Homo sapiens: one gene and its partner. The protein of the gene in region 2 purifies or fractionates together with the protein of the main gene of each other region. This does not show direct contact. Each region holds a gene or a part of one and is shown on either strand. Other genes may lie near its edges.

What was found. Proteins that work in one complex are often made in the same cells at the same time.
Region 1: the proteins of URGCP (region 2) and CUEDC1 purify together in Homo sapiens (co-immunoprecipitation; 2 studies listed by BioGRID and IntAct, with this or other methods). This does not show direct contact.

Annotation. Positions count from the first base shown.
Region 1 is NC_000017.11:57,885,813-57,889,565, reverse strand, and holds part of CUEDC1 (CUE domain-containing protein 1), read left to right. Parts: intron 1-3,686; 5' UTR 3,687-3,753.
Region 2 is NC_000007.14:43,885,979-43,889,731, forward strand, and holds part of URGCP (up-regulator of cell proliferation), read right to left. Parts: intron 1,839-3,753; coding exon 1,812-1,838; intron 1,508-1,811; coding exon 1,437-1,507; intron 1-1,436. Other genes in the region: URGCP-MRPS24 (uncharacterized protein LOC100534592), read right to left, coding at 1,437-1,507. UniProt on the Homo sapiens protein: May be involved in cell cycle progression through the regulation of cyclin D1 expression. May participate in the development of hepatocellular carcinoma (HCC) by promoting hepatocellular growth and survival.

The sequences.
Region 1 (3,753 bases), on a different chromosome or scaffold from region 2:
GAGGCAGGGTGTGGGGCTGGGCTGGAGTTGTCAGTCCTTTACATTTTGTGGTCCCCACAAGGATGCTTTCAAAGCTTTGCACTTGGGCCAAATGGAAGCGGCTGCTTGAGCTGCTGTGTCTCCAGTTGCCCAGGCCAGCCCAGCCTCCCCTGGGGCCATGAGGATCAATATTTCCTTACAGAGGGCTGAAAGAATTCCAGGGATTGACATCCAGGTGCTGGGGAAGACCCCCCTAGAATCTCCCTACCCCATCCCCCCTGTGAGGGCAGCTTGGCCAATTTACCCACTGCTCCTGGCTCTTTACCAGCCTCCTGGGGCAATGATAACTCAAATGCAGCATAGCCACGTTCTAGGCAGTGTGCTGAGGATTATCTTATTTCATTCCCATTGAAACCCCCTAAGGGATACATCCAGATGAGGGCTTAGGGCCACGGAGAGGATGGGAGACTTGTCTGAGGTCCCACAGCTGGGGAGTGCGGAGGCCTTGTCTGAACTGGTGCGTGTTCCCTATAAGTGGCAAGAGTGCAAGGCTTCTGGAGCTTCTCAACACTCAGAGAGGCCCAGAACCCGAGGGAGCTGTCCAGAGGGCTGCTAATGGGGAAAATGTCGGTCTTGCCATCTTCTTTCTTCCTCCCCTGGGGGTGGCCCAGGTCATCTTTCTCCGAGGGATTGCCTTTGGCAGAGTGAGACCTGGGTCCCTCCATCTCTGTTAGTAAATTACTGGAGGGGCAGAGAGATGATGGCTTTACTCCAGAAGGCCTTAACACAAGTCACTGACCCCTGTGTGTGATGACACTAGGACAGCAGACAGTAGCCCAAGGCATCAGCTTCTGGGGCCTCCTGGCCCTGAGGTCTGTGTTAGAGGCTTGAGGGCAGGTCCCCAGAGCCCAGGACAAAGGCAGCTGTCAGGGTGGAGCCCAGGCGAAGCTGCATACTCTTCTGATGTGTGTGGGTTCGTGGAGATGTGGGTGTAGGGGTGTTGGGGTGTCTAAAGCCGGCTATGGGAAGCCATGTCATACTTGGCTACCTTCCTATGTTCCTTCTCACAGCAAAACTCTTGGACTGATCATTTGAAGTCACCCCTCTGTGTCTTCTTGTGAAATGGCTTGGGCGTCTCTGGGCTCTGACTTGCTCATCTGGGAAGAGATGGGGTAGAGGGAGTTGGATTATAAATCATGCTTCACTCAGTCAACAGAATGCTACTCAGGCACTAAAAATGATGGCGTAGCCCTACGTATTCTGACATGGGAAGATGGCCACAATATCTTATTATGTGGAAAAAACTAGTTGCATAGGATTTATGGTTTGATTACATTTTAGTAAAATAAATTCATTTATGGTGGTATATGCAAAGAAAAAATAATGCCGGGCGCAGTGGCTCACGCCTGTAATCCCAGCACTTTGGGAGGCTGAGGCAGGTGGATCACTTGAGGCCAGGAGGTTGAGACCAGCCTGGCCAACATGGTAAAACCCCATTTCCATTAAAAATACAAAAATTAGCACCAAGCGTGGTGGCACGTGCCTGTAGTCCCAGCTACTCAGGAGGCTGAGATGGGAGACTTGCTTGAACCTGGAAGGTGGAGGTTGCGGTGAGCCAAGATCACGCCACTGCACTCCGGCCTGGGCTACAGCCAGACTCTGTCTCAAAAAAAAAAAAAAAAAAAAAAGAGAAAAAGAAAAAGAAAAGAAAAAATCGAGATGTAGACACACTAAAGTGTGAACAGATTTTCTCAGGGGTTGATGTACTCACAAAAACATCTTGGCCAAGCATTGAAGCTCATGCCTGTAATCCCAGCACTTTGGGAGACCAAGGTGGGCAGATCACCTGACGTCAGGAGTTTGAGAACAGCCTGACCAACATGGCAAAACCCCATCTGTATTAAAAATACAAAAAAAAAAAAAAAAAAAAAGCCAGGCGTGGTGGCGTGTACCTGTAGTCCCAGCTACTCGAGAGGCTGAGGCAGGAGAACTGCTTGAACCTGGGAGGCAGAGGTTGCAGTGAACCAAGATCACAGCACTGTACTCCAGCCTGGGCGACAAAGTGAGACCGAAAAAAAAAAAAAAATTTCTGTATCAGCTGTTAAGATTGTGACTCCAAGTCCTAGAAAAGTGAAAACAAGTTTGCACCTGTTTCATCAAACTCAAGGATATTATTTGATGGAATTGTCCCTTAAAATAAAGCTGCCACTGTCAGAAGTTGGTGTTTAGGCGCATTCCATTCCCAGTGGTCTGTGCTAACAGAAATGCAACCTTGGCAGTGATTTACATGCCTGGGTTTGAGTGGGCCGGGTGGTTTTCTGTGGCAGATTAAGGTCCCTCATTGTGCTTGATTTTCAGTTCCACCTATACATGTTGTCAGGACACTGTGCTGACCCTGGGGGCTGAGGGACACACATTGGCTGGGGCAGGAGAACTGGGCTTGGTGGGGATAAGAACAGAATTTATGGCCGGGCACGGTGGCTCACGCCTGTAATCCCAGCACTTTGGGAGGCCGAGGCGGGCAGATCACGAGGTCAGGAGATCGAGACCATCCTGGCTAACATGGTGAAACCCTGTCTCTACTAAAAATACAAAAAAAAATTAGCCGGGTGTGGTGGCGGGCGCCTGTAGTCCCAGCTACTCGGGAGGCTGAGGCAGGAGAATGGTGTGAACCCGGGAAGCGGAGTTTGCAGTGAACCGAGATCGTGCCGCTGCACTCCAGCCTGGGTGACAGAGCGAGACTCCGTCTCAAAAAAAAAAAAAAAAAAACAACCAGAATTTATGATGTATATGGTTTCTCAAGACAACTTTGAGAAAAAACTTCTAGAATTTTTAAAAATATGTAAGGACACTGAGTGTTCCATAAGAACAAACGTGTCTGTGATATAAATAAAACATGTCGGCCTGACATTGGGGTAAGGAAAATGAACTCCAGGGGTTGACAATGGCCTTGCATCTCTCTTTTGGGCTGGTGCTTCTCAGGGGAATGGACTGAGTTTTAGGGCCTGACATGAGTTTTCCAAGAGTGGGAACTGGGCCTCCCCTATTAGCCCGAGGCTCTGCAAGGATGAAACCCTGTTTCCTCTCTCAGGCTGGAAGCTCCCGGTGACACTGGAGGGTCCCGCTTCTCATCACTGCTGTCCCCGGGGTTCGATGGAGCTCTGCACAAGATTCCTGCCCTGGTGGTGGGACCACGATGTTGGGGCAGTGATGTGGGAAGATGAGAACAGGGACTAGAGATCAGAGAGGCAGGACATCTTTAAAGAGCCCCTCCTGCCTCACTCAGGTCTTCAGGGGTCTTTGGCAGTATGTGTAATGGTAGAGACCAGTGACTTGAGGGCCATATGTCCCAGATTCAAATCCTGGCTCCTCCACTAACTCAGCGTCTATACCTCACTTTTCCCATCTGCAACATGGGCATACTAGCACATACCTTACAGTATTGTCATGAGTTGGCCCACATAGAGCACTTAGGATGGCACCTGGGTCGGAGGAATCCCTTGCTAACTGGTGGCTGTCCTGTGCTAGTAAAGAACTGTGGGGATTTCATTACTGAAGCCGGGGAGAAAGCATGAGGAAGAAGCAAGCCTCCCTTGCCCGTGGTAGGGGTCGCGGTTCCCTGCCCTCATTTCTTAGTAGCCCTTGGCCGCCACCCTGAGCTCATGTTTTGTTAGCCTCGGCCCTGACTCCATCTCTTTCGGTTTCAGGTGGGACCATCCGTGAAACCGGTGCCAGGATGCACCGGGGGTGTGGATGACCGGCCGCCCAGCCCCA
Region 2 (3,753 bases):
TCTGCTACAAGCCTTGACCAACTGGCCAATAATCCCCATGGTGCCTACCTTCCAGAATTTAAGTTCCATGAAGGGCTTTGAGCCTTTTCATTTACTATTGTTTACAATATCGCAATGCTTACAACAATGTTAGTGCATGGTAAGTACTCAAAAAATATTTGTTTGAATGAATAAAATAGTGATTTTTTCCATAGAGACGGTGTCTCACTATGTTGCGCAGGTTGGTCTCAAACTCCTGGGTTCAAGCGAACCTCTTGCCTTGGCCTCCCAAAGTACTGGGATTACAGGTGTGAGCCACTGTATCCAGCCTAAAATAAAACTTTATTAACCAAAACTTATTTGCATATTTTTGTGGATTTTTGTTTTTGCATAACTCTATTAATATCCAATAGAACACTTTTTTTTTTGGCAGTTAAAACATAGTTTATTTTTTTAGCACATTCATTTTAAGAAGAACCTAATTTATGAAAGATATATCTAAAATGAGTTACTGGCTGGGCACGGTGGCTCACGCCTGTAATCCCAACACTTTGGGAGGCTGAGGCGGGTGGATCACCTGAGGTCAGGAGTTCGAGACCAGCCTGGCCAACATGGTGAAACTCATCTCTACTAAAAATACAAAAAATTAGCCGTGCATGGTGGCGCATGCCTGTAATCTCAGCTACTTGGGAGGCTGAGGCAGCAGAATCACTTGAACCCAGGAGGTGGAAGCTGCAGTGAGCTGAGATCGCGCCACTGCATTCCAGCCTGGGCAATAAAGGCGAAACTTGGTCTCAAAAAATAAAATAAAATATCAAATAAAATAATAAAAGAAAAGAAAATATAAAACAAAATGAGTTAGTAAGAGAGCTAAAGATATCTGGAGTGTGGCCACCATACCTTAAAGGTGAATTTACAAAGGGTGGCGTTACAGCCCCACCCCCAAATCCTCAGAGAAAGAAAAACCAGCCTGTATGGACCATAACCAGGAAGACTACAAGCCCCAGTGTGCTCTGGGACAATCCCAATTTATACCTGTTTTCCCAACATTACATCCCTTTCACTCTCAGAAGTGCCCACTTTAGAAGATAAACTATACAGTCACCTTAACTATGACCTACAATGGCAGTTATGCTAAAATTGGGGTAATGTGTTTCTGTTAAATTGTGTCATAATCACCTGTTTAACTGAATCCTGGGAACACTTACTCCATTTTCTAGAATAAAGTGTTGCCCATAAAAAAAACAAACAAAAAACACTATTTTGAATATATGAGGAATGCTTAAAAGACCCTTAGATGGAATCTTCTTGTAAAAGGAAAAATAAAAGCCTTAAACTTATTTATTTTTGAGATGCACAATCCCAAGTCCAGGAGGGGCTGGAACCCAGAATCCCAAGGGGACAGGAGAAGTACTTCAGCTCCAGAGTGGGCCCACATCCAATTCATCCAACTTTACCTGCAATGGCCACAGCTGTTCGTCTCTCTGATGCTTTTATTTCTGGGGCTACTTCTCCCAAATCTGAATGCCTGAAACAATTTCAGAAGAAAATTATAATTAAAAAAATGGAATACCACTTTCACCTATCAAACTGGCCGCATATAAAATCTCTTGGAGAGCTTTTAAAAACTATAAACCCTGGGTCACACCCCAGATCCATGAAACCAGAATCTCTGGGAGCTGGTCCTGGGTATCACTGCTTTTAAAAGTGCCCTCAATGATTCTGATATGCACCCACAGTTGAGAAACACTGGTCTAGAAAACCAGCACTCTCCAAAACTGCTGGCCAGAGCACAAATACAGTCATTCAGAAAGACAGAAAAATATACATACCCTTTGCCCAGTAATTCCACTTCTATCCTAAGGAAATAATTAAGATTTAGTTACAAAGATGTTGATGCCAGCTTTATATATAATAGCGAAAAACTGATGCCTTTTAAAATCAAAGTGCAATAACGGAATTATGGTCAAATTCTGCAGCCATTAAAAAATACGCTATGGATTTCTTTTGTGGACAAAAAGATGCTGGATGAGATATTAGGGAAAGCTGTTATATTAATTAGTCGGGGGAAAGTCAGGCTACAGAAAAGTATGCACAGTATGATTACAATTTAATAAAATTGTGTATGTTTATCTATAGGTATATATACAGAACTCTAGAAGGATGTTCATCTGAAGTTAACACTGTGGTCTGGAAGGGGTGATCCTGAATTATTTTAAATAGCTATGATAAGTGCAGTCTAATTAAGAATAAACTATTTTAGGCCTGGTGTGGTGGCTCACGCCTGCAATTCCAGCACTTTGGAAGGCTGAGGCGGGCGGATTACTTGAGGTCAGGAGTTCGAGACTGGCCTGGCCAACATGGTGAAACCCTGTCTCTACTAAAAATATAAAAATTAGCCAGGCGTGGTGGCAGGCGCCTGTAATCCCAGCTACTTCGGAGGCTAAGGCAGGAGAATCACTTGAACACAGGAGGCAGAGTTGCAGTGAGCCGAGATCGCACCACTGCACTCCAGCCTGGGTGACAAGAACAAAACTCCATCTCAAAAAAAAAAAAAAAAAGACTAAACTATTTTAGATGTATCATAGAGTGAGCAAATGAGTAAATGTATTGATTCTGCCAGGAGCCAGGGTGCTAACTAACTGCTGAAGAAAGGACATACAAACATAGAATGGAGAGTTACAGCAGAACTTGCAGAGGCGCAATGGAACTGGAGGCACTCGTGTGAACTGTGATTTCTATATGCATGCTTATGTGCATATGTGTTTAAGTGTGTAGATGTAGGTGTGCACACATATCTCTGTGTGTATACGAGTGTACACATGCATCTATTTCCTAACTGTCCACGGAAAGGGCCAAGAAGCAAAGACACTGTTGTGGCAATGGGCATGCCTAGCACCCTTTAATACCTTCCACGCTAAAAGAAACGGACTCCTTGGAGATCCTGAATGATGGCTGGGGCAAGGAAAGAACAGGAGGAGCCTGAGCATCTTATTTCAGAAAGTAAGGAAATGCTCGAAAACATGATGGGCACAGGAGCCAGCCTGAGGAACTCTCACTGGTCAAATCTAGGACAATGTGAGCACAAACATAAACACAGTAACTGATTTAAAACCATTGAAAACCAGCAATTAGTGAGTCCACATGGATAATAAATACATGGGCAGAAAGAGAAGGCTCTCTTGCTCACATCAGAACATGAAATGTGGAGGGGGATGCTGCAGTCAGAATAGTATCATTTTAGAGCAGGGTGCAGTGACTCATGCCTGTAATTCCAGCATCTGGGAGGCCAAAGCAAGGGGATCACTTGAGCCCAGGAGTTCAAGACTAGCCTGGGCAACATGGCAAAACCTCATCTCAACAAAAAATAATGAGCCACTGTACCCTATAGCCAGTAATTTTAAAAATTATAACACCAGCCAATCTGTCAACTCGGGCTCCAGCCCACTTCTAAGCCTTGCTAAGTTTCCTGTCTGTGTATCAGGCGGAGTCGGACCAAGACGGCAGAGAACAGCACTTCCAACGGCCCTACTCAGGGGCAAGGGAGCTCTCTGCAGTGCAGTTTTTGAAAATTACTAATATCACCATATATGTTTTTCTGATTCCAAAAATAAGACACATGTAAAATACAAGAAAGTATCATAAAAATGCTTTCCTGTCATATGTTTGAAAATTATACCCTATGTTAATCTGTCCTCTCCTCCTCTTAATCTACTCCCATTGCTCTAGCCCATTCTGTTAACAGATAGAAGAGTAGTGCTTTCGCACGCCCCA